4 linked regions of the Homo sapiens genome follow. The protein of the gene in region 3 interacts with the protein of the main gene of each other region in a pairwise test. Each region holds a gene or a part of one and is shown on either strand. Other genes may lie near its edges.

Evidence for each region.
Region 1: the proteins of PIMREG (region 3) and BEND5 interact in binary tests that used the Homo sapiens proteins (3 or more experiments, as listed by UniProt).
Region 2: the proteins of PIMREG (region 3) and MAL2 interact in binary tests that used the Homo sapiens proteins (3 or more experiments, as listed by UniProt).
Region 4: the proteins of PIMREG (region 3) and SPAG5 interact in binary tests that used the Homo sapiens proteins (3 or more experiments, as listed by UniProt).

Annotation. Positions count from the first base shown.
Region 1 is NC_000001.11:48,773,867-48,780,952, reverse strand, and holds the start of BEND5 (BEN domain-containing protein 5), read left to right. Parts: upstream 1-4,061; 5' UTR 4,062-4,121; coding exon 4,122-4,347; intron 4,348-4,791; exon of another isoform or gene 4,792-4,924; coding exon of another isoform or gene 4,925-4,988; intron 4,989-5,022; exon of another isoform or gene 5,023-7,086. UniProt on the Homo sapiens protein: Acts as a transcriptional repressor.
Region 2 is NC_000008.11:119,211,345-119,218,373, reverse strand, and holds part of MAL2 (protein MAL2), read right to left. Parts: intron 3,752-7,029; exon of another isoform or gene 2,747-3,751; intron 1-2,746. UniProt on the Homo sapiens protein: Member of the machinery of polarized transport. Required for the indirect transcytotic route at the step of the egress of the transcytosing cargo from perinuclear endosomes in order for it to travel to the apical surface via a raft-dependent pathway.
Region 3 is NC_000017.11:6,439,491-6,447,454, reverse strand, and holds the start of PIMREG (protein PIMREG), read right to left. Parts: upstream 3,001-7,964; 5' UTR 2,967-3,000; intron 2,380-2,966; 5' UTR 2,345-2,379; coding exon 2,051-2,344; intron 2,045-2,050; exon of another isoform or gene 1,424-2,044; coding exon of another isoform or gene 1,268-1,423; intron 1-1,267. UniProt on the Homo sapiens protein: During mitosis, may play a role in the control of metaphase-to-anaphase transition.
Region 4 is NC_000017.11:28,577,067-28,582,047, forward strand, and holds the end of SPAG5 (sperm-associated antigen 5), read right to left. Parts: intron 3,055-4,981; coding exon 2,943-3,054; intron 2,772-2,942; coding exon 2,685-2,771; intron 2,420-2,684; coding exon 2,299-2,419; intron 2,187-2,298; coding exon 2,075-2,186; intron 1,687-2,074; coding exon 1,606-1,686; intron 1,463-1,605; coding exon 1,307-1,462; intron 1,227-1,306; coding exon 1,152-1,226; intron 1,025-1,151; coding exon 944-1,024; intron 705-943; coding exon 633-704; 3' UTR 508-632; downstream 1-507. UniProt on the Homo sapiens protein: Essential component of the mitotic spindle required for normal chromosome segregation and progression into anaphase. Required for chromosome alignment, normal timing of sister chromatid segregation, and maintenance of spindle pole architecture.

The sequences.
Region 1 (7,086 bases), on a different chromosome or scaffold from region 3:
AAGCTCTTTAGTTTAATTAGATCCCATTTGTCAATTTTGGCTTTTGTCGCCATTGCTTTTAGTGTTTTAGTCATGAAGTCTTTGCCCATGCCTATGTCCTGAATGGTATTACCTAGGTTTTCTTCTAGAGTTTTTATGGTTTTAGGTCTTACATTTAAGTGTTCAATCCATCTTGAGTTAATTTTTGTATAAGGTGTAAGGAGGGGGTCCAGTTTTAGTTTTGTGCATATGGCTAGCTAGTTTTCCTAACACTATTTATTAAACAGGGAATCCTTTCCCCAATGCTTGTTTTTGTCAGGTTTGTCAAACATCAGATGGTTGTAGATGTGTGGCATTATTTCTGAGGCCTCTGTTCTGTTCCATTGGTCTATATACCTGTTTTGGTACCAGTACTATGCTGTTTTGGCTACTGTAGCCTTCTAGTATGGTTTGAAGTCAGGTAGCATGATGCCTCAGTTTTGTTCTTTTTGCTTAGGATTGTGTTGGCTACATGGGCTCTTTTTTGGTTCCATATGAAATTTAAAGTAGTTTTTTCTAATTCCGTGAAGAAAGTTAATGGTAGCTTGATGGGGATAGCATTGAATCTATAAATTACTTTGGGCAATATGACCATTTTCACAATATTGATTCTTCCTATCCATGAGCATGGAATGTTTTTTCATTTGTTTGTGTCCTATTCTCTCTCATAAGTGGGAGGTGAACAATGAGAACACATAGATACGGGGAGGGGAACATCACATACCGGGGCCTGTAGGGGGGTGGGGGGCTGGGGGACTAGGGGAGGGATAGCATTAGGAGAAATACCTAATGTAGTTGATGAGTTGATGAGTGCAGCAAACCATCATGGCATGTGTATACCTATGTAACAAACCTGCATGTTTTGCACATGTATACCAGAGCTTAAAGTGTAATAATAATAATAATATTAATAATAATAAAGGCCGGGCGCGGTGGCTCACATCTGTAATCCCAGCACATTGGGAGGCCGAGGAGGGTGGATTGCCTGAGGTCAGGAATTTGAGACCAGCCTGACCAACATGGTGAAAACTCGTCTCTACTAAAAATACAAAAATTAGCCAGGCGTGGTGGCGAGCACCTGTAATCCCAGCTACTTGGGAGGCTGAGGCAGGAGAATCGCTTGAACCTGGGAGGTGGAAGTGGCAGTGAGCCGAGACCAGGCCATTGCACTCCAGCCTGGGCAACAAGAGCGAAACTCCGTCTCAAGAAAAAAAAAAAAAAAAAAAAAAAGAGAGGAACAGACTTTCAAGAAAAAATGTGCAAGAGGTTTGTTATTCATGCTCTCTTTATGTCCTTCTTTAATACATTTGTTTTATAAACATTTACTCCCCAGCCCTGTGCTAGGTACCTGGGATGCTAAAGTTACTCAGCCTTTGCCTCCCCTCAAAGAGCTCTTATTCTAGTGAGGGAAGATAAAAAGTGCTGGGACAAAATATTGTAGTAGAAAGAGATAGGCTATCCTTGAAAAGTGTGGGTGGTTGGGAAAGGCTTCACAAAGGCAATGACATTTGAGCTGATTTTCAGGGTAAGTTGAGGAAGGAAGAACTTCCCAGGATGAAGGCAGAAAAAGCACAAAAGCTTGGGACCTGCTAAAACATGCTATCTTTGGAAATGTCAAATAGTTTAGGTGTCTGGAGTGTACTGTGTCTGGGAAGGTAGTAAGAGATGAGATTGGTAATGTTTTGTGGTCACCCCCATTTAGATGCAGAGAGGAGGTTGGCCATTGGCTACTTGAAATCATTTTGGGAACATAGTCCGGAGCTTCAAGGACTTTTGTTAAATACGGCCAACTCTGCATGATCCATCTTGTGAATTATCAGAAGTCTTGCTGCACATTACTTCCCCTTGACCACCATAGGAATGTATTCTTAAAATAAAAACTCACTGAGGATCAGTCCAAAGAAATCATAATCATGACAGTAAATGTGCTGGAACAACTCAGAGTGGCTCCTTTTTTTTCCACAAGCTTGTGGGGCAAGATAAGACCAACAGCTGCATCAGGACAAGTGGTGGTCATTTTTGGCTGTACCACATAACCAGTGGGTTGGTTTAAAAAAATTTGTACTGACCTACACATTTGGATATGAGAGCTATATGTTGATGGGATTCACTTATATAACGCACTGTCTATTTCACAGTGAAATAAATATCTGCCTCATTGTCAGTGCAGCTGATGTGAAATATGAGCACAGTGCTTTGATTTTATAATGTTTGATGTTTTCTGATGATAAAGTAATAAAACATTGTGGAAAATAGTTACATACACACACACACACACAATGAATACAAGGAAAAACAAAATCATCTACCACTACTAAGAAGCTAAAAAAATCACTATTAACATTTTGGTGCACTTATTCTGTTTTTTTCTTACAGCTAAAGTTTATTAAGATGAATTTTTAAAAATATAACATTTAATTGAGTCCAACACCTCCATTAAGCATTCCTCTATGACAATACTTTTCTCATTATACTGTCATTACTTGCTTATACTTCTTTAATACTCCTAGACTAGATTGTAAAGGTTGTGAGGATGGGAAAGGTATGTTATTCATACAGTTACCTAATTTTGGCACAGGAACCCAAAACTGAGATTCAAGTTCTGGTACACTGACTTTGCAAGGCCCAAGAATCCAGGTGTTTATCTTTTCATTTCTATCACCAGCACCTGGCCCAGAATCTGGCAGGTGGTGTAAACTCAGTGAATATTGGTTGCTTGAATAAAGGAATGAATGAACAGATGGATGGATGGTTGGATGGATGGATGGATGGATGGATGGATGGATGGATGGATGGATGTGGGTTTTTATTTATTCTTCTTTACCCAAAATTCATTAACTCCCTGTCAAGTGCCAGGTCTGGCTAGGCAACAGAAATATAACTAGCCATATTTGATACGAGGCATCCCTGTGAAGGTACTGACCTCCTCTGATGTGGGATAGGGTTCCTATGAGTACAGAGCCCAATCAGCCCCCTTTGGCTGGTCCTCACGGCTTGTCTTGGAGGGGACCCAAGCCCCTCCAGGCTCTCTTTGGCAAGAGACAGAGCAAAGACCGCTATTCCATGGAGTACTATTCCTGTACTCTTCAAAGTGCTCCAGAAATCCCTAGCCTTGGGCCTGTGTTACCCAGAGCGCTCCTCAACTCCCTCCGCGATTCCAAGTTGTCCCTGCTCAGTGGTGGGCGTGCTGTGGAGAGGGTATCTCAATGGAGAAAGACTATAGAGGAGAGGGGCGCCACTGCTCCCTCAGATGAGAGCAGCCCTTGACAAACCTTCCACCTCCCCAGCCAGCTGGCACAACTGGAAATCTCAGATAAGCCCCAGTTCTGGTCAGAACTGGTTTGGCAGCTCTAGGGGAAATTTTCTGTCTGACTGACCCTTTCCACAGAGGGAGCTGGCAGTTTTGCAGAACAAAACAAACAAACAAACAAACAAAAAGAAAGAAAGCAAAGAAAAGGCGGGGCCAAACTAAGGGCTGGGAAAGGCGCGGGGAGGGTGCGGGGCTGGGGGCGCGGGTAGGGTGGCTACATTTAAAACACTCCAAACTTCTGCTGGCTTCCAAGTTTACACTTTGAGATTCAATCAAGATTGCCCCCACCCCTATCCCGCATTCACTCACTCATACACTTCTCTACTTGGCAATGCAGTTTTGTTGCAATGCAATTTGGCAGCGCGATTGTTGAAGCAATATAATCCTGCACGCAGCGCACCTTTTAATCAATGCATTTTTTTCCTGCAATGCTCTTGTTATTATTTTTATTGCAACTGAATCTCTGAACCCTTTTCCCTCCCCATTCGAATCGCGCTCCGGCTGTGATTGCTCGGGTCTGACTTTGCAAGTGGCAGTGCGCTTCCAAACCCCCCTCATCCGCCCCTCGTCCCCCTTTCCCCCCCTCCCTCCCTTTTCCGCGCCCAGGCGAAAGCAGCCGATTGGCAGAACGGTGCTTTCAGGAACAATAACAGTGGGGGGAGCCTGGGTCCTGGGGAGCCGCCCCCGCCCCCCCCAGCACCGTAGCGAGACTCGCGCCCCCCGCCGGATCCCCACCTCCGCGCCCGCCCCGCGGGCTGAGCTGCCCGACCGGGGCCCGCCCCCGGCGCCCACCATGTACGCCTTTGTGCGGTTCCTGGAGGACAACGTCTGCTACGCGCTGCCCGTGTCGTGCGTGCGCGACTTCAGCCCCCGCTCGCGGCTGGATTTTGACAACCAGAAGGTGTACGCCGTGTACCGGGGCCCGGAGGAATTGGGCGCCGGGCCCGAGAGCCCCCCGCGCGCCCCCCGCGACTGGGGCGCGCTGTTGCTCCACAAGGCCCAGATCCTGGCGCTGGCAGGTGAGCAAGCGGGCGGGGAGGGACGGTGGGACCCGGGCGGGGGCTGGGACCCCGGGAGGGGCCGGGGGCCCGGGCGGAGGGGACCGGGGGGAGCCACTGCTTGCTCCTTCCTGCCTCCTTCTCCCGTCCTCTGGGCATTTCATTTGGGAACGGGGTGTCTCTAAGAGGCCAGGCCAGTTAAAAAGACCGGATGGTCCCCTTTGTCTTCCCCGCTTCCCCGAAGCTCCCGCGCTGTCAGTCCGTCTTCATCTCTTCATCTGTGTCTGTCCTCCTCTTTCTGATTCTTTGTGTTTTCTTCGTTCCTTCACTTTCCATTTTTCTCCCTACCTGTTTGTACCGTCATTTCTCTCTCACCTTCTCTTTACCTCTCTCCCAGTTCCTTCCCTCTGTTCTTTTCTGTCAAGAATTAAGTTTCTCAAGCTGTCTGTCTCTCTCCCTTTAAAGGCTGTTGGTACCTCCTTGGAGTGAGGAGCAAGAAGGATATTGTCAGATCTTCTAGGTGGGAGTCCCTCCTCACAGAGGGAAGCTATGACATCCTTGTCCCATCCGGGCCAACATTGGACAGGATGAGGAGGCCATGAACCTCAGTGCACTGGGCTCCACACCACACTCTCCTGCCCCTCCCTGGCCAGGTGGCAGAGGTAAGGAGGTAGAGGCCCTAAGGCATCCCTCAGCCTCCACACCCCTTTCTGAATCTCCCAGAAGGCTCCCTGAATGAGAGAGTTGAGGGCCAGGAGAGAGTTTCTGGGTCAGAATAACACTGGACCTCTCATCCCTGCCCTGCCAGGGCCCTGAGAGATGGGCTAAGGCAGCTAGTCTCATCTCCATTTCGTAGATGAGGGTACTGAGGTTCAGTTGGTGATAGGGAAAGAAACCAGCCCTTTATCCTCCTATGCTCCAGTTCTTCCTGCCATGCTGAGACACCTTTTCCTTTGTAAAGAGAAGACAGCTGGCCCTCTTTCCCAGCTAGTTCCAGAAAGTTTGAGTCTAGACAAGCAAGGAAGGGGGAAGTATCATCTCCGTTTTGGGGAGCAGCCTTTTTAGCTCCTGCTGGTAAGGAGAATGAACCTTAAAGTGGGCAAATAGTGTTCCTGCCTTCTACCAGAAAGAACACGAAGGGTTAGTGACTGAATGAAGATGTTTTGTAATTTTGAGACCTTCTCTATTTTTTTCAAGTTCCTTTGCTTCCTCACATTTAGCCTAAAAGATGAACCCAACATTCTCTCAACCCATAGAGACTTGCCCAGGGTCTCATGGCAAGTTAGCTCAGTCTCACAACTCATGTTGCCTCTGAAAAATCGGTTTGCAGAAGTTGAAGAGTGGAAGAACTGGAAACTGACCAGCAGCACTTGGACCCTTTTTGACAGGCTCTATCCATACCACCTCCCTGATAAGCCCTGGCACACCGAAGTGTAGGCCCACCCACTGCCAGACACCTAGGGCCAAAGAAACTGAGGGAGGGGAAGCAGATTTTAGAAAAGGGAACCATTCATAGCTGATTAGGTTTTATTTTGTTTGCTTACTTGCCTTTAATTACCTGAGGGAAAGGATTAGGAATTTATTTCCCAAGACGATAGGCTTGAGGAAGTTATAACTAGGTTGTAACCTTAGCTTCCCTTTTGCTAGAAGAAAATGCATGCATGCTTCTTGACGATTGTATTGTACTCCTAGATCTGGAAGGGTCCTAGGAGAGTAGAAGTGATGTGTTAAAGAGAGTCAGTGATAAGTTTCTTAGTGTGTAATGGCTGTTTTCCTCTCTTGGAGATTGTTTCATTCATCTACTCATTCATTCAGCAAACATACATATACACTGTGCTTGACTCTTCAGGCACTGCAGAGAGGCCACTTAGGCAGATGGCAGCTCCCACCAGCTCTGATTTTGAAATCGACACAAGTCCTCAGAAGCAAGATACATGTAGCTGTTGGTTTGAGAACCATGAATTTTGAACCTGTAGACTGTTCATCCTCCAAGTTAGAATGTTGATAAATCTGTATGGTTATTTAAAAAACCCAAGCATCATTTGGAAACTGGCAGAGTAGGTTCAAAGAAGTGTGCCAGTTTGAATTAGTTGAAAAACACTTCCCCTTACCTCTCTTCAGTTTTTTTCTTGGGAGGAGAAAGGGGAAAAAAAGACAACAACTTGAAGTTGGCCAAACCACATTTTGAATTTTGATCTCCTGGGTACCCACTGCCCTGCATAGAGACCTGATCGAAGGGCCAGGGTGAGTTCGGGAATTCATTACCCTGGAATAACTCCTATGTATCTTCAAACCCCTTCCTGACTTAAACTTGGTGGCTCTGAGAATTGCTTACAGTGACTTCAGAGAGCTCATCTGGCATCTCCTATATGTAAATACCACTGTGCTATGGCACCAGGTGTGAGGAGGAATCCCCTCAAGTGGGAAGCAGAGGTGGCTTTATGTTTGTGGATTAGCTATTAATTGATTAATTAATCTCTCTGACACAAATAGAATGGTTTCCAAGGTAGTTTCAGCACAGCTTTCTGGCTTTTGGTGAGAAGTATGTTGCTATACTGAGTGTTGGCCCAAGCCAGCCCAGAGCTGTCTTGAAGTATACTTCTTTTTATACTCAGGAAATGTCAAAGCCGACTGCTGTGGGACTTTACATTTTACTGCCCATAGTAGGTGGTTTATACCACTACTTATCAAATTACAATCCCAGTTCAAGGAAAAACAAAACTCCTTCTTTCCTGATAGTCTTGCTATATGCCTACACAT
Region 2 (7,029 bases), on a different chromosome or scaffold from region 3:
ACCGTTCTTATCGTACTCAAAATTACAGCCCTTCAAACACCTCAAAGGCTTGGAAGGGAAACTAAATGCTGCATGAACAGGAGTCAGATTCACCTCCTCACTTGTGGGGTATGTGCTGCATGGAAAGGGGAGAGGGAAGGAGTGTAGGAATGCCCCCTCTCTCTCACTCAAGTAAATACATATGATACATCCCTAGAGCTGAGATTCTGTGAAATCCAGGCTCGCTTTGGAAGAGAGAGGATGGGCCAGAGAACATAATTGAGCCCACTTTGGAGGGCCACCATCCTCATTTTGAGACTGTCATACTGGTGTATGGATCACTCTGGCCTTGACACAGTTATTATTCCCTACTTTGTGATTTCCTTTTGACAAAAGCTACTTTTCTTCTTGAGCTTCCCAACTTGGCTCCAACTTAAACTTGGCTCCAGTTTTTTTAAGTTAAAAAACTGAACTTAAAAAATTGAGATGACCAATGCTCAGTATATTCACTTCCTCTAATTCCGGGCATTAGTGAGCTTAGAGTGTTTGCAAAACGGTGTAATTATCAGCATTCCTGTTCAGTAGAGACGACTCTGGAGGTGGCCATATTTTTAGAAGTAAAAAGCAGAACACAAAAATGGTTAAATCTGACAGAGAACAGATGATAAATACAGTAGCAACTGCAGAGTACACACTGTGAAGAAAGGTATTCGGAACTATTATATGTTTCGCCCACGTTATTCTCATCGTCTTGGATCTGAATCCATATTCTGACCCCTTCCCTGCCACTGCCTTCCACTGCTTTCTAGTGTTCTAAAAAATCCAATAATTATGTATAAAATAGCCAAAGGCACCTCAATTTGAAATTTCTTTAAGAAACTAAGTCAGTGCTTATGACGTCAAACCTCAAGCTCTAACAAAAAGACTACCTTTGCTTCCAGGCAATACAAAGGTAAAAACCTCCTAGGAGTAGGTATCAGCATCTCCCGGTGACTCAGTCACCTTTTATCTTCTTAACCCAACTTTAGGTGTACTGGGTACATACCAGAAGTACTCAAATATATTCTGAGTTGCAGTTATTAAATTGCTACACATTCCTAAAACAACTGATCTTCTTTCTGGTTTAACACATGTTTGTTATGTTTGCTTGGTCTCTGCAGACCAGAAAGGTATGACTTGGCTGAAACCCTACCATAAGAAAACCACGGAAGTATTTATCCACAAATCACACTAAACTGAATCCTCAGGGTTTGATGTGAAGACATGTTTTCACTAGAAACTGTGGAATGGGAAAAATACATAGTCCCACGGGAAAACATGCTCTTGAGCAAGTAGCAACTCTTGCAATTCTGGGTGCATGAATTACAGATTCTTAACTCATCTCCTGTTTGGACGGTCTTATGTTCCCAAAGGGTTCCTTTTGCAAATGCCCTTTTTCTTTTCAAATGTCACTTATTTCCTAATTACCTGCTTTTAAACATACCCTCTGACAGCTAAAAATTTTTTCAAACCAATTTGACACCTCCATCTTAGTATACCCACAAAGTAAACCGGCTAATTTCTACTGTGACCTATTTTCAATTAATGTTTGGAATGAGAACAGGAAAAGGTAAGTGAATTTGAAAGGATAAAGGCTGGCTAAACTACCCATAAGGGAAAACACTATTTAGAACTTTCCGTATTAAGCTCCCTCCTTCTAATTCTATTATCTATATATTGGATAATTCATTATTCTACTGCAGTGAGAATGAACACCCAGCAAACATAGAGGAAAAGCAAAAAAATATTTGTCTTCCAGTCTGGCTTGTAGAGTTAGAGTAAGAAGTTGAAGCTAATGGTGATAGCAGAAATAGTACTTAACATTTACTGAGCTCTTATGTTATAAGCACCGTTATAAGGGTTTTATTTGTGCCAATTTAATCCTCACAGACCTTGAGAGACAACATTATTATTCCTACTTTATAGGTAAGTTAATTGAGGTACAAATCCATTCATAACTTGTTCCTAGTTATATAGTTAATAAGTGTTAGACCTGAAATTTGAACTTGGCAATTGGCTTCCAGAACTTATGATTTTAACATTCTGCTATTCTGCCCCTCTCATGGTTTAGTGTTCATTCTAAAGCAGGGTTTCTACCCATATTCCATATGATTTCCTAAAATCATATAAAATTGGGTGGACAAGTACATATGCATTTTTCTGAGGACACAGTCCACACCTTTCATCAGAATCACAAAGGGGTATGTGGCCCCCCCACCCAGAAGTTCAGAACACTTTATCTACTTGTAACCCCTTCTATTTTAATGGATGTTTACTTATGGGGTGCTGCACAGGAAACATCATGGTTATAGAAGTGTTCAGTATATTCAGAAATTTATCAGCTAGAAAAAAAAAGATTATCTACAATTAGCTATATTTTACATACAATTCGCATTTTGAAAGATTTCCTTAAACTAGAAACATACTTAGCCAACACATACAATATAACTGGTAGATGTATTTACAAAGCAGCCCACACAAGTATGGATTCATTCACAATGCGACTGTAGATCACTGGTACCACTACAAGGCATACTGCTGCCCCCCTCCCCAAGCTCATCATCTTCCCTGTAATGCTTCTTTTCCTACCACCCTCTCTTTGCATTCCAGCCTCTACCCCTCATCCCCTGAGCATAGAGAAATGATCACACTTGACCATGTTTCTGCCTAGCATGCTGCCAGTAAAAATTCTGCTGCATAACTAAACTCCAGTTACCATGTTTTCCAGAAAGACTTCCCTGGCCAGGTGCCATCCCTCGGTGCTTCCACGGTTACTGACGCGTGTATTCTCCACAGCAATTACAACTGGATCAAAATCATGGATCTACATGCCCATTTCACCCACTAGACTGTGACGTCAGAGTCGGTGACATTGCCTTCAACATCTCCGTATGCTCATTACCCAGGGTGGTGCTTTCTACAGAAGGTCCTCAATCCATCCTCCTTGAAATGAATGGAAACCAACCGGCATGTGTAATGAATGGTTCCAAAAGAGAATGCTCTAGGAGTGCAGCTTGGGATGCTAGGAACACACTCCGGTCTGGAGCCCAGCTCACTCCCTGGTTCATGGTGGATGTCCAAAAATAGGCATGAAAACGAGTGAAGCGAGAATATGTACTTCTCAATTCTCAAGTTATTATTGGTGACACCCACCACCTAGTACCAGATCTCAGGAGGCTGAGATGGAAAGTTATGGGAAACTTTGTACCTCTTGCCAGTTGAATTCATGACACCCAATTTTAAATCTTTTTTCGGCCCCAAATTTGCCCACATGACCTATTTCTATTGTAACTGCCACTGGAACTTTTGACCAGGGTAAATCTTGTGCCTTCTTCCAGTGCCTCCTGCTCCCCTCATCAGTCCCCATCTGTCCTCTAACCATGCTGACTTCTGTCCAAACTGCTTCTGGACTGGCCCTGGCATAGACCTGCATTAGAGATGCAAGGCAGCAAGGTGTTTATTTATTTAGTTAGTTAGGAAAACAGAACAAATTCTGGGATGTAATGAGAAATGACATACACATAAGAGGCTTATGACCAAAATACGTTAATACTCATTGCAAAAGAAGTTCTACTTTTTAGCTTTACATTTGAAGGCTTTAAAAATATGTCTGAGAGTGCTATAGAGAGTTATACTTTCTTCCTCCCCATGTGACCTAAACCTCCAATTCAGCTGCTTAAATAGCTGACACCGACCCTAAAATGGAAAGCTCATATTACAGAGGAGAAATATGTTCTGGTTCTTTTTATTCTTCTTTATAATAATTCCTCTCGATTTTGAAAATTCCCTTTTCATGTTTGCAGGTAACTAGTTATCACTTTTAGTTTAAAGCTGTTCCTGCGTGCCAATGCCCTGATATTGGCCAGACCCGTATAAATCACTGCCTCTTTCCTTTCTTTTTACCTTCCTCCTTCTCATAGCTATTATACAGAAGTTGAGATTGTTATATATGTTGTCTATAAAAGGATATGGTACTCTTATATAAAATAGAACACTTAGGAAATTCAAGTTAAAGTGCAGAAACCTGGAGAAGAATTATGGCAGTTTACATGTTGGGCAAGATTTAAGAGGGCATCTACTCCCAAGCTGCCCTTCTCCACTCCAGCCAATGTCTCCAGACTATTTTCACATACTGCTCAGTTTGTACTATAGAACAAACAAGTAGCATTTGTTAAGTACTGCATGTGCATGATACTGGGTATGCCAACCTGGTTCCTGTCCTTTGTCATTACAGGGTCATTTCTATTCAGCCATATCACTGCAAATACACCATGTCCACAGCTCCTACCACCACGTACAACATTTCTATCAGGCTCTACAAAACAAATCTCTTCTCTATGACTTTTTCCTTTGGAGCTCAAGGTGAATCTTTTCAGCTACTTGGTTTAAAGTTTTCCATATTTCAGTTCTTCGTATTTTTTTTTAAAGGACTGCCAGTCGGAGCAAATGATTGTTGATAATAATCTCTGGCAGGGGCATTGGTTTATTTTCCCTTATGAAACTTTAAAGGTTATTTATTTATTCATTTATTATTTTGGGGATGTAGTTTCGCTCTTATTTCCCAGGCTGGAGGGTGATGGTGCGATCTTGGCTCACTGCAACTCTGCCTCCCAGGTTCAAGCAATTCTCCTGCCACGGCCTCCCAAGTAGCTGGGATTACAGTCATGTGCCACCACACCTGGCTAATTTTGTATTTTTAGTAGAGATGGGGGTTTCACCATGTTGGTCAGGCTGGTCTTGAACTCCTGACCTCAGGTGATCCACCTGCTTCAGCCTCCCAAAGTGCTAGGATTACAGGCATGAGCCACTGCACCCGGCCTAAAGATTCTTTTAATGTGGATGAAGATTTTTAATCCAGAGGCAAAGGAAAAAAAATACCTACAGTTTTAAAACCCATTTAGGGGACAACTATGTCCATGGACAGCTCCCTCTTGCACACTGCAAATAAGCAATGTCCCTTCACAGTCAACATTTTCCAGGCAATAAACTCTATACATCAGAACATATACATGTTACTAGTCCAAAGTCAAAGCTCTCAGTTGAAAATAACCTGAAGTCCCTTTCATAGATTTATCTGCATGACTGAACCTGCCTCCCCTAAAGTCCCTCCCTCACAATCATCCTTTCATTAACATTTGTTTTTCTGGCATAATTCCTCTGAGTTACATCTTATATTTAAGTTTAGTCTAGGTATCACTTTGGGGCAAGTCAAACTTTACATACTTAATTGACTTCCCAAACCTCAAACCTCTCTCTCTCCTTCTCCATCCTTCTTTCATTGGTTCTATTTCAGGTTCTTTTCATCCCTTATCTAAACTATTGCAATAAGCCCCCTAACTGCTCTTCCTGCCTTCAGTCCCTTTGTTTTACAACCAAACTTCATCACTCAAAGGTTTCTAAGACACAAGCTGGATCAAGTTTCTCTCTGTCCTTCACAGCTTTCCATCAGACAATAAATCCAATGCCTTGGCCTAGCATTTCTCAGCAAACCAGAACCTGAGTCCTACCTGCTGTTTTTCCTTTTTCTGCCACGGCCCACCAAAATCTCACAACTGACAGAACGTTCTTGCCATTGTCCTTCTTGTCTCTGTGTTTGTACGTGTCCTTGTTTCTACCTGGAATTCTCTTTCCCATTTTCTAATGAACCATGGCTCATTATTGAAGGCTAACCTCAAATGTCCCCACCTCATTAAAGCTGCCTGTTCTGACCTCTCCAGAAGTCAGATGTACTCTATCCTGCTGTTCCACAATACTTTTTATAAACCTATATTAGCACTTCATACACAGCATGGTAATTCTTTCTTGACTTTATATTCCACCAAACAGTAATTTCTTTTAAGGGCAGGAGCCATGTTAGTTACTCTATTTTCAGGGCATAAAAGAAGGCTTGATGCATAGTATGTTCTTAATTATAAGCTGAGTAAATGAAAATTACTATGGCATCCAAAACACTGCAGTTAGAAGCATGTGAATAAGAATCCTAGAGTATCTCCCACAAAGATAAATGTGAATGAATAACTTGGGGAATATAAGTAGTTTCTTAAACACTAAAACTGCAAAATAAAACACAATGAATTCAATGATTATCTGTATTCTTTTTCGTGATTAATACTATTAAAAATTCAATTTTTCTTGTGCATTTTACAAGATAAGCTCATTGAGAGCAGGGATCCTAAATATCTTGTTCAGCCCAATAGTGCAGATGATCCCATGTTATTTTTTAAAGTAGATAGACCCACCTGGAAAATGTTTTAGCTGCAGTTCACTTCCCATACTTAATTCTTTCTTCCCTGAATGGTAGTTACTTTTGTGACTATACTCTCAACTAGGTTATAGGTCTTTCTGGTGAGGAAGGGTTTAAACATCTTTGTTCCCAGAGGAGTGCCTTGCACATAGTAGGTATTCAGTAAATACCCGATGAGTGATTTTTATAAAATATTCACTCAAAAAACTGTGAGATTTTGAAAGTGCGAATTTTGAAGGTGATGGCTTCCATTCTAAGCTAAAAGGCTTAGCTTTGCAATATTAACTTAGTATTAAACTCTGTGGCAAGCATACATTGGTAAGTATTGCTAAGCCCAAAACCAAAGAGCTGACAATTAGGTATCCAGGAGTGGAACACACCTTATCTCCCTATCTCAAAAAAAAAAAAAAAAAAATCACTATGCACGTGAGATTGTAATATTCTCCACTTAAGAAGCCAGTGCTATAATGCTTTTCCTGGTGCTCGTAGGCTGGCACTATTTATATATTTTGTAATATCTCCCAACAAATGGCTTATATCTGACAGGCTGTGAATAGAATACGTTAAGGGGAATTGGGAATGAATACTTTGAGCCAAGTTAAATGGTTAGTGTGAGAACCAAACTCCAAGAGCATGGTGTCAATAGCGTAGTCAACTGTTGATAGCCCAGTCCTCCTTTGTCAGGTACAATTTTCACATGTTAAGTTTCAGAAGGCAATGGGACAGAAATGAAGAACTCTTAAAGACAAACGAATTTGAACAGAAGG
Region 3 (7,964 bases):
GGCAAATGGAAAGGTTAGCACAGACAAAACCAAAAGTTAGGCCGGGCGCGGTGGCTCACGCCTATAATCCCAGTACTTTGGGAGGCCGAGGCAGGCAGATCACCTGAGGTCAGGATTTTGAGACCAGCCTGGCCAACATGGTGTAACCCCATTTCTACTAAAAATGCAAAAAAAAATTAGCCAGGCGCGGTGGCGGGTGCCTGTAATCCCAGCTACTTGGGTGGCTGAGGCATGAGAGTCGCTTGAACCCGGGAGGCGGAGGTTGCAGTGAGCCGAGATCGCACCATGGCACTCCAGCCTGGGCGACAGAGTGAGACCCTGTCTCGAAAACAAACAAACAACAACAAAAAAAAAAACCAAGGGTGAGCTACCTTGGTCTCCAGACCATACAAGCAACCCCTACACTCAGCAAGTGTCCTGTAAATACAGGCTATTGTTAGTCTCCAGGGTGAAGGATGTGAATGACTCCTCATGGAATGAGTCCACGGCTGGGACCCAGCTCAGAGCTCTTGGATATGACAGCAGCAGTCAGCCGCAGGAGGACCCCCCTGGTGCCTGGAGCCTGTTTGTCTAAGTCCAAACTCTCTTTCCAGACAGACGGTGACCCCAGGACTGAAGGAGAGGGCCCCAAAAGAACAGGCCACCCCGCCCAGCACCCCCTGTACACCAAGAGAGCACCTGTCTTCTTGCCTCGGGTCTCACTCACTCTATCCACCCTCCACAGTGGTCCATAGTGATCCTTCTAAAGGGCAGTTCTGACCGTGACACTCAACTGCTCAAAACTCTTCTGTGGCTTCTTGTTGCCCATAGGACCAAGCCCCAACTCTTGGGCCTTTCACACCAGCCGGGTGACAGCCGTGAAGGCTCTTCTTCATCAGCTAGACTGTCTTTGCCTTGACAAGCCAGAGCCCAGTGTTTGGAGCGAAGCCCAAGTTAAATTTGATGAGTTATGTGACCTTGGACAAATTCATTTCATTTCTCTGATCCCTGAGGGTGGTGAAAACAATCAAAAAGTGCTTCCAAATAAGGACTAACATTTGGCTCAGAGAGCTCTCTGCAGAGGGTCCAGAAAGAGCCACCCACTTTCTGGAGAATTCTTTCATCTTCAGAATTCCCAATGAGACACCGAGGAGAAGCCTCTGCAGCCCCCAATCCTCTCCCTGGAGGTCTGTTCATCCTAATGGCTTCTGTCCTTTCTAAGTGACACGTCTACACCTCCAGCTCTGGGTTTAAAGATGCATCCCTTGAAGGGTCCACAGACACTTACATCCAATATAAGGACGTCTTCCTGACAGCAGCTCTCATTTGACAGCAAATCCCCTCTAACTGGACCTTCTCGGCAGCTCCTGAAGTTTATCCCCTGCAAGTCCAAACCCTTAGTCTCCATCAGGAGCATCTCTGCCTCTATTCCCTTCTCCATCATGTAGCTAAAGGGCAAATTCTAATATGCTAATTAGACCAGACTTTCCACTGTTTAGAATCTTCCGGACTCCTGATCATTCCTGGGAGAGTTCTAAGCTCCTTCATATCCTTTCCCCCTGCTCTACCTTGCTCTCTGTCATCTGTTCATACCCAGACTACAATTCTGGCTCTCCTCAGGGATACACAGCTGAGTGGGCAGTACACCTTGCTTTCCCTCAGCTCTAGGCCTGGACTTGCACTATTTCCCCTACCCTAAATACCCCTTGACCTTTGCTTCCCTGGGTGAACTCTGGAATCACCTCCTCTGGGAAGCCTTCACCGACTAAGCTTGCATTTGGTGAGCCTCACTATTGGTCACTTGCTTTGCAATTTCCTATCACGTACAGCTCTTATCACCTGGTATTGTGAGCATCTGTTTCCTCCAAGACATGCTTTCATTCACTCATTCAACTATTTGTTGAGCACCTATATGTGCCAGGAACTATCTGGGGTGGTGGGGAAACAGCAGTGAACTAACCAACGTCCCTGTTTTCATGAAGTCTATATTCTTGAGGCTCTTTGAGGGCAGGAACTGCCTGGCACCAAGGAAACACTCCATAAAAAAGATGATTAGTGTTGTCAGTATTACCTGGGACACGGCACCCAAAGCACTCTTAGCTGAGCGAGCTGCAGCCTGGAGGCCCTGCTGACCTGGCTCTGGGGTTTCCAGGCGTTTCCAGGAGGGCCCTGCGCGGAGGTTGAGGTTGACGGCTCTCAGGGGCAGCCTCCTTTGGAACTGTCTGCACAGGGACCCCAGGGCCCCTACAGAGGTCTCCTGATGGCTGACCACAGGCTGCAGCTCCTTGCTGTCCTCCAGCTGCTCCTGGTGCTGGAGAGATCTCCGGCGCACGGAGGTCCCCATGTTCTGCCACCGAGAAGCCATCTGCCTGGCCAAGAGTCTTCTCTGTCCACTAGACCCTGGGGAGGAGGGCGAAAGGCAGATCAGCAAGGCATTCCCCATACCCATTCCCAGGCCCCACAGAGACCCTGGACACAGGGGAAGAGACGGGATGCAGCGGGGTGGCGGGGGCGGGCGAGTTGGTAAGTGTGGGTGCAGGAAGGAGGATGCTTCCTGGAAGAGGGGCCTCGGGTCAGCAGCATTTCTGATGTCCCGCCCTTCAAGTTTCCAAAACAGCTGTCTTTTCATCCCAACCTCCTTCCTCTCTCTGGCTCAGGCGAGGAGGGGAGGCAGGGTCAAGACACGCCGTAGCCGAGCTTCAGCGCTGGGCCCAGGACACGATCACCATCTTCTTCACCAGCTCGCCCAGACCAAACGCGCACCCGCCCAGACCCCGGCCTTCCCACCAGACGCCCCGATTTCGATCCGACTTCTTGTGGTACCCAGACGACCCCACAGGCCGTGCGTGTCCGAACCTGATGCCCTCCCCTGTGAACAGAACCTGATGCCCTCCCCTCCGAACAAAAAAATTGTTTTGAGTCCAGATCGCGCCATTGCACTCCAGCCTGGGCAACAAGGGCGAAACTTGTGCCCAGCCCGCACTCACCCGACACCACTAAGGCCGAGCACAGCCGCAGCACAGCTGCTCCTCGCCCACCGCAGCCGATTTGAAACTCTGCGCGGCTCCGCCCCCGGCCCCGTCCTCACAGCTGATTGGTTCCGTCCCCGCCCCCGCCACCGCCACCGCCCCGGGGATCCGATTGGCTCCCTCTCTCGCGGCTGCAAATGCTGCGCTTGGATTGGCCCGGCCGTGCCCATTCATCGCTCCGGCCCCCGCCCCGCCGCCAGCCTCGTGGCTCCGGGCTTTGTATCCTGCGTCCCGCTCGCGCCACTGCCCTTGCTAGCCCAGCCCCCGCGCATCGCACACCGGGTCCCCTCCCTGGAGCGCGCACAGGGTTCAGGCTGCTCTGACCCATGGGGTGGAGGCGGAGGTCCTGGGACCTAGGCCTCCTGGCTCAGGCCCCAGGCCCCAGGCCCGGCAGCGGGCAGAGACCCCTCTCATCCTGCCAAGGGGTCTGGCTTTTCCTTCTTGCTCAGTGGTTTTGTCAGAAGGAGCCAGGGACTGGCAGTGCAGAGCCCTGGGTTCCCAGAGACGTTTTCTTTCAAATTTCCCTCCTGACCCTCCCTTCCTGTGACAAGACACTGTCCCTCTCTGAGTTCCCCATACTCGCCATCCACGCTCCGCCCTCCCTAGAAAACGCGTCCCGGAAGCGGGGATAGACCAGAGTACCGGTCTGCCCTCCACCCGTCTACACCGGCTCCCCGCCCCCGCCTTGCCCCACGCATCCCTCCCTCTCTCCAGCGGAATGCCTGCCTCTCTTCTCCTTAGCATCCAAACAAATGCAGCCATTATAAAGCTCTCTCCAGCTCATCTTTCTCCTTTCGGTGACCTCAGAGCAGTGCTGCCCACTCCCCCGGCTGGTTTCTTTGTTACTTCTCCGCACAAGAGCCTGAGATGATGGCTTCTTGAGACTCTGTCTTCAGCCCTCTCCGTTTCTGGGTGGTCTCACCCACTCCTTTGGCCTCAGTGATTTCCAAGGAAAGGATGATGATAATGATTAACGTGTATATGGCACTTAGTATGCACAGGTACCGGTGTTGCAGTTTATTAACTTACTTGATCCTCTGCTATGGTTTGAATGTGTCCCTCAAATTTCACATGTTGGAAATGTAATGCCCAAATTCATATATCGGTGGCATTTTTTGTTTGTTTTTGAGACGGAATTTCACTCTTGTTGCCCAGGCTGGAGTGCAATGGCATGATCTCGGCTCACTGCAACCTCCGCCTCCCAGGTTCAAGCGATTCTCCTGCCTCAGCCTCCCTAGTAGCTGGGATTACAGGTGCCTGCCACCACGCCTAGCTAATTTTTTGTATTTTTAGTAGAGATGGGGTTTCACTATGTTGGCCAGGCTGGTCTCGAACTCCTGACCTTAGGCAATCCACCCGCCTCAGCCTCCCAAACTGCTGGGATTACAGACGTGAGCCACCGTTCCTGGCTATCGGTGGCATTTTTTAAGACATATAAATTGTTATTTATTCAAATTATAGAATATTATACAGCACTGAAAAATAAGCAAATTGTAGCCAGATGGTGTAACTTAAGTCAATCTCAGAAATATGTTAGATTAAAAAAAAGCAATATGCAGACAAACATAAAGTATGACACTGTATAAATTCAAACGCAAAAAAGCTCAACAATATGGTTTAGGAATATGCACATACATTTGTGGACAAAGCTATTATGGAAAGCAAAGGAATTGAAACACCAAAATAAAATAAGTCGTCGTTTTTGGAAGGGTGGCAGGAGAAGAGGATGTAATGAGGAAAGGGCTCAAAGGACTTCAAAGATAATGTTCCATTTTGTAGGCTGGGTGGTGGCCACATGGATGTTTACTTTCTTCTTTTTTATTTTTTTTCTTTTAGACAGGATCTTGCTCTGTTGTCCAGGCTGAGGTGCAGTGGTACAATCATAGCTCACTGCAGTCTCAACCTCCTGGGCTCAAGCAGTCCTCCTGCCTTGACCTCCCAGAGTGCTGGGATTACAAGCGTGAGCCACCTTGCCTAGTCTTTATTATTCTTTAAACCATATATGTAAGTAATTTTATACGTATCACTTTATAAATGCGTGTGTATACACATACCTGTACATATATTATTTTCTAAGTATGAGCTACTTTGTAATTTTCTTTAAAATTTTTTTTAAAATTGACAAGTAATAATTAAACATTTATGGGGCACATAGTGATGTTTTGATACATATAATGTAGAGTGATCAGATCTGGGTAATTGGCATATTCATCATCTCAAACATTATCGTTTTTCTGTGTTGGTAAGAGTCAATATCTTCCTTCTAGTTATTCGAAACTATATATTATTGTTCACTCTAGTCATTCCACAGTGCTATAGAATACTAAGCTTATTACTCCTATTTAGCTGTAACTTTGTGTCTTTTAACAAATCTCTCCTATTCCTTCCTTGCACCTACCATTCCCAACGTCCAGTATGTTGATGAGGTGAGGCCTTTGGGAGGTAATTAGCATTAGATAAGATCAAACAGATGGGGCCCCCATGATGGTACTGGTGGCTTTAAAAGAAGGGGAAGAGAGACCCGAGCTGACAGGCACGCTTTTGCCCTCTCACCATGCGATGCCTTCTGCCATGTTACAACACAGCAAGAAGGCCCTTACCAGATGCCAACCAGATGCCAGTGCTATGCTCTTGAACTTCCCATCCTCCAGACCATGAGCTAAGTGTCTTTTCTTTATAAATTATGCAGTCTGTGGTATTCAGATATAACAACAGAAAACGGACTGACATCTTCATTGTACCTACACTTGATGAGGAAGCTGAGAATACAGAATTTGGTAGGGCCCAAATTTCACTCAGTTAGTCTACACCAGGGCCAAGGGTTCAAACTTCATCAGTCTAGGGCTAGGGTCCCTGTGCCTAACCACCACACCACACTGCCTTCCTCAGCCCCTAACACCTCCACCCCCAGCTTGAGCCTCTCATCTGACATGTATAGCCAACTACCTCCTGGGTCTCATCTCCTCTTGAATGCTGCAGGCATCTTAGATAAACACACCCTAGCTGAAGTCACCCTGGTCTCCTCAATCCTCCTCCTCCCCCATATTCCCTCTTGCCTGTGATCCATTAAGCACTGTGCTAAAAAATGGGCCACAAAGGTCAACAAAACAGATACATTCCTTACTGTCATGGAGCTCAAATCTAGTGTGTGGGGAGACATAGACATGAAAGGATCAAATAACCAATAATCAGTTAATCAAAGAACTATGCAAAACTTATGTTATTGAAAGCTGAGACCTAGAGAATGAGTTAACCAGGCAACGAATGTGTGTGTGTGTGTGTGTGTGTGTGTGTGTGTGTGTGTGTGTGTGTGTGATCTTCTTGGCTCAGGGAACACCACGCTTAAGGAACCAGCATTCACTGTAAGAGACCCAGCACACACACACGTGAACTGAAACAAAAGTTTCATGAAACAATACTTGACTATGTGTGATATGACCTGAGATTTTATTTTTTATTTCATTTAAAAAAACCTTGATGGTTACAACCCACTATATTCATTCTACGAGTCACTAATGGAGTATGAGTTGTGGTTTGCAAAATATTGCTCTAGTTTGCCTGTCCATTTTGTTCACAGTGAAGTTGTTTATCAAGAGTCAGAAATGCTTGTTTTCAAACCTGTTTACAACAGTTGCATTTGTTACTGTAATTAAGGAATTTAACTGATGTCTTTTACCAGTGAAATCCAAGGGGGAAAAGAAAAAGTTGTTGTTTCTATGAAAACTAAGATGAAAGTGTGGGAAAGACTCCATGAAGGTGAAACATTTAGAAACAAGCCAAGTCTCTCAAACCGGAGTGTCTTATCACAATAGCCTCCCCAGTGCCTGTCATGTCACAGGCATCCGTAATAATAGCTTATATTTTTTGAGCCCTCACCATGTGTCAGACTCTCTGCTAAGGGCATTTACTTTCTTTATTCTTTTTTAATCCTCAAGCAATTCTATGAAGTAGGTACGTTTTTTATTTCCATTACAGATGACAAAAGTGAGATGCAGACAGGTGAAATATCTGGTCCAAGATTGTATGGGATGTCAGAACTGGAGCTTAAATCCAGTGACTGACTTCAAAGCCTGAATTCTTACCCTTAGATTACACAACTTTGTTAAGATCAGGGGTGAAACAATGAATGCATGCATGCATAAAGAGGCCCTCCCTGCTTGGAGCTTTCCACCATCTTCCCTCACTCAGAATGGTAACTGGCAGGCCAGGTTAATGAAGAACAGTCTCCATGGCAACAAGTAAAGGGGGAAGAAACATTTTCTTATGAATGGGAAGCCTTTCCCTTTTGCCTTGCGTGGAGTGGTGGCTGGAGGGAGGGAAGGAGGCTGTACTCAGGGGAAGGAGGCTCCTAGTCCAGAGGTCGGTACATTGGCTTCTGTTCTTGGTAAGGAGGAAAAACCAGTCACTTTTTCCTAGCAGAGGCTTTTGGAGGGGGAGGGAATCCAGCATCACCCTTGCCTCCGTTGGGGAGGGGGACAAACGAGGAGCTCCAGCCCTGCTCTCCAGGGGCTCTTTGTCCAAGAGCAAACATTCCACTAGTTTCCTTGACCTCCTGAAACTGTCAATCTGATGGAAGACATAGACATTAAACACATCATTGTAAACAATTACAATGGGGCAAAATAGCATGAATGTGCAGTGCTAGGGAGAAGTGACAGGGTATAAGGGGCATGGGGAGATTGACAGGAGCTGGAGGTCAGGGTAGTCTTCCCTGAATGTGTGGTGTTTGAAGTGAGGAGCTAGTGGGCCAGTGGTTGGGAGTCTGGAGCATTGCCAAGCGTTAGGACTGGGGAAAGCCTAGACAAAAAGGGTGGGGCTGAGATGAGGGGCTGAGGGTAGGGGATGGGGTGGCAAGAGACAGGGTCTGTAGGCCAGAGAAGGAGCTTAAAATTTGTCCTGAAGGTGGTGGCAACTCTTTGCTGAATTTGAAGAGGGCAGTAGGTTATTAGATTGGCA
Region 4 (4,981 bases), about 22 Mb from region 3:
TGCCCTCCCACCTCGGGGAGCCTGGCCATGACCTTGCGTTCATTTCTGCCACAATCCCTTTACCACGTGCCGGGCACTTGCTGGATGCTGGGGATTAAGCTTAGTCTGGTGAAGAGGAGGCACCAGAACAGTAACAACAGGTTGAGTAGGTGGGGCAGAAGCATCTTCAAGGTGCCCAAGTTCAGGGCAGGAAGTAATGAACTGAGCTTCTCTGTCCTCACCCCCATATTTGCCAGGGTATACCCCCGAGGGGGCTGGGGAAAGTAAGAGAATGAAGCCTTTCTGTTTCCTCCAGGCGGTGAGCCAGGGAACAAGCAGTCCAGTGCCCAGAGTTTTGGTGAAAGCAGAGGAAGGGAGGAAGGGCAGGCAGCCTTGGCTTTGGATGCAGCAGGAGGTGGAGAGGGATCTATGGAGGGTGCCCAGGCAGGAGGCCCAAGCTGCTTCTTCCCTGACTTCATCATCCGCCCCCTCTCACCCAAAAAGTAAGATTCCGTAAGCTTGGAGAAATTCATTAAATACACTTTATTTAAATAGCATTTATCTCAGTTGGCTCTATGCCAGTTGGTCTTGGTATTGGGGTAAGGGGGTATTGCAGGTAAAAAGAGGTGAAGCAGATTCTGGCTTTCAGTTTCTTAGCTCAGAAATTCCAGCAATCCCTGTAGTTCTTTGCATCCCCTCACCACCTCTGGAATAGAGAGCAGGGTCTGGGAAGAGAGGCAGAAAACGCAGCTCAGGACCACAGACTTAAGGCCCAGGGCTCCCAGCCCCAGGAGGCAGCCGCTGAATTAGAGGGGAGAAAACAGACACCACAGAGAAGCCTGCAATAGTGATTCAGGCCCAGCTCTCAGCACAGGCTGGGAACCAGATCTGTGCTCATTAGTACCTCCTGGGGCCAGGCCTTGTACCAGGTTCATTAGTGATATCACCTCCCTCCTGCCTATACCTTATAAATATGCTGAACAATGTCATCTAGTTTTTCTAACTCCTTGTCAGAGCGCCGAAGGTTCTCCTCTAGGATATTTCTCTAGAAAGCAAACAGATTTTATAAGTCCTATGCATAAAAGAGCAAACTTGGTAGGACAGGGGAAACATGGCGGGGCATTTGTTAACGATGGTAGGAAATGGCCCTGGAATGGCATGGACATTCTTACATGGCTCTGGAACTTGATCATGAGTTTTTCCTTCTCATTTTTCATCTCCAGGAACATCACTCTCAGTTTGTCCACCTAGAAATATGTCCAGATCAACAGGGGTACAGCCTGGGGTCCCCACCTGCTGTCCAGCTCCTCTGTTAACTCTGAGTCACCTCCTGAGAGAGCCACACTTTCTCCTGGATCCAATTGGTGGCCATAGGCTGGCAGTTGGAGTCCAGCTGGCCTGCCAGGGCCTCCTGGAGCACTTTGGTCTCTGTCTCCGCACGCCGAAGTGAGCGGGTAAGGTGGGTCACCTCCTCTCTAAGGCTCTGGGAATGAGAATGGAGAGGTGTCCAATAGGACATAAGGATAGACAACATGTGGTGAACAAAAGCAAACCATTTCTCATACTTGGGATCCTGGCTGACCAGTAACACAGAAGGCAAAGGCCTGGGCATGATGGTGAACATACTATGAGCTCGCCACTCTTGTCTATCTGTTCTAGGATCTTCTCATTCTGCTGCTGTATCACTTCCTGGAGCTCCTTTTCATTCTGTGAGGGAAAGGGAGGTGAGAAGACACATGAAGAGCTGGTCTCTTCACAGCCCTTGCCAGGAGGTAGGAGAGAGTGCCTGACCCATGCTTAGCCCACATGGGACCAATTGATATCACGCCAATTCTTTCCCCAGGGCCAAGCCAGGCAAGGCACATTTCAGTGTTGGGAGAGCTCTGCTAGAGTTCCTGACTTCTCTCCTGAGTCAGCCTGGGAAGACAGGTCAGCCCATAGCTGACATGTGAAATGTCTGACCCCAGGAAGGGCAAAACTAGGGCAGTGGTTGGAAAATCCCCACCACCCAGATTCCTGGAGAGATAATGGCTCCCAGTGGGCCAGTAGAGCTGCCCCAGTTCTTCATCGCCCCACTTCTAGGTCCCTCCTTCACCTTGTAGCGCAAGCACAAGGCCTGGTTCAGCTTCTCTATGTCTGCTTCTTTTGCCTTCTGGACTTCCTGATGCTGTTCTTCCTGGGCCTGCAGCCTAGCTTGCAGCTCACAACTGAAGGAAGGAAGAATTTAGCAACATTCCTGTCCTCTCAGGGATCAGTTGGACCCTTGGCATAAGAGGATGTCTCACTGTCCCTCTGTCACCAAAACTGCATCCCACTCACATTTTTCGCTGCAGAGTCCTGATGGCTTCTTCTTTAGACTCTTGTAGCAGGGAACAAAGACTCTGAAGCTCAGTAGTCATAATACTCATTTCTGCCAGGCTCTCCTCCATGCCTGGGGTCTCTGAAAGAGAAAGTCCCAGATAGAGGTCTAGCCTTCCAGCCCTGGAAGGAAGGAGTGTATAGCCATCATTTCCACAACTCTTATCCGTGTTCCCCACCCACAGGATTTGAATGTCTGGAACATTACAGATCCCAGAAGGCAGAAATAAAATGAGCCCAAGTAGAATTGAGGTTTTTAGAGCAAAGCACTTCTCACTGCTTTCGTCTTTACTCATCACCACCAGATTTTCTAGAAATGAGGCAGGATCCCTGGAGCCCCTCCTAACCTGCGGGCTGAAGGGAAACCATTGATGCTACTCGGGTGAAAGCACTCTTGTCACTTCCAAGCAAGGGCACAGGAGTTGATTCTGGCTCTAAGAGAAAAACCAATAATGGGAGAGGGCCCCTCTGATGATCCAGGCAGGGGTCTACCATAATGGAAGCCAGGGTAAGATAGACAAGCCCGCTGGTGGACATCTTCAACAGCAGAAGATATCAGGAGCAGCGTCACAACTTTCCCACCCCCAAATCCCAGGGCCTTTAACCTTCATCTGCCACTGCTGTCAAGATGCTTCCCAGGAAGGTCCTGTCATTAGGCAGAGGGTGTTCCTGGGTGGGAGGACAGGCTGTACTCAGCAGAAGGGTCTCTTGTTCAGTCTAAGGGCAAAGAAGAAAAAATAGCTGCTGTTCAGGTCTAGTGAACTCCTGGGCTTCCAGGTAACTCCCAGCCATCTCCTCCAAAATGCTGTTCCACCTATTATCTCAATTCTCTATCTTCAACTTCTCCATTAGTGCCTTTCTCTGAACATGTTTATATTCTTAAGCCTCTCCAACAAAAACAGCAGTATTTTAAAAACAAACCTAAACAAAACAAAACAAAACCCTTCTTCTTACCTTAAATCCCCTTTTAGCTACTGCCTTTTCTAGAAAGAAAGGAAAGAAAGAAAAAAGAAAGAAAAAAAGAGCCTATACTTCTTGTTTATAACTCTCACCATCTATTGACTCCCCAGCCCACTACACTCAGGCTTCTCCCCTGTCATTCCACCTAAATTCTTGTCATTTGGTTCACCAATGGCAGCCTTACTTTCAAATGCAATGCATATATTTCAGCTCTTGTTTTACCTGACCTATTTGATATTGATGACCACATTGTTCTTTTAGAAACTTCCTTTTCTTAGCTTCCAGGACATGAGTCTCTCTCCTTTAAAGGCAGGCCCCACACCTTTCTGGTTATTTCTTCTCTATTCACAGGTCCTTCCTTAACTGCTGGATCCTCTGGGTTAAGTCCTTGGCCCTAAATTTACTCTAATTCATTCCCAGGGTGGCCTTGCCTTGGGAGCATCACAAAAACATCTACTTCAAACTTCCCTTCCACATGAATGACTCTTCCATCCCTCTCTCAACTTTTTCCCAGTCTTTTTCCCAGTCTGCAGACTCAAAGGCTAACTGCCTGTGAAGAATCTACCAGAAGGTTCCACAGTCAATCTGTCAACTTAGTATGTATGAAGCTGAGTTCACCATTTTCCCTGTGCCCTGATAGGGAACACCCTATCAAAAGTCTGTTCCTACTCCTGTATTTACTATTCTAGAGCAGGGAGAGGGAAGGCTAGCAAATTGTGGCCTACAGGTCAAATCTAGCCTGCCAACTATTTTTGTAAATAAAGTTTTATTGGAACACAGCCAGACCCATTAATGGCTGTATCATCTATGGCTGCTCTTGAACTACAAAGGCAGAATTGAGTAGTTGAGACAGAGACCATATGGCCCAAAAAGCCAAAAATACTTATTATATGGCCATTTATAGGAAAAGCTTGCTGGCCTCAGTCCTGAAGTAGCTGTGCTTGTGGCTGCGGCTGCTAACTGGCTGCGCACAGGTAAGGCCAGGCAAGGCGGGAGCCACTCAACATCTCCGCTTCATTTCCTTGGCTCTTCCCCTGCCATCCTCGTCCTGCTACCTGGGACTCCGGGATGTGCCCTTTCGACCCTTTCCTAACATCTTTGCTCCTTTCCGCGTACTTGAAACCCCATGGCTCAACCTCTTCTGTTCTATCCCTCTTCAGCTCTCCCAGCTGGACCTCAGCTTTTCCAATCCCAAATCCTCCTCTACTTGTTGGATTTTTCCTTGGAGTCTGTCTCTCCTACCCAGAGCATTTCCTTCTCAGCCTGCTCCCTCTCCTCCTAGGCTAGGTCCTCTCTCCAGTTCTCCCGCCTTCTCTGCCCCCCGGTCTAGGTCTCTCCCGCTGACTGGTTAGCCTGAGTCACCACTAGCTCCCCTCAGTCTCATCTCTCTCTCAGGCTCTCTACTCCTTTCAGCCTTGGTCCTCTGCCCTCCCGTCTGGGTGTCTGAGTTGTGGGGAATTGAAGTGCTTCCTATTGCTATCCCTCCTGCCACACAGGTTGAAGTGCTTCCTGGGCACAGAGCTGACCCGGAGGTGTCACTAGCCCTAGTCTCCACACACTAACACAGCTGACCCGCTGGGCCCTCTTTCCTAGCAATCTAAGGATCATCATTCACTCTTCTAACTTACTCTCACATCAAATTGGTCACTCTTACATCAAATTGGTTCTACTGCCTCTGCTTCCT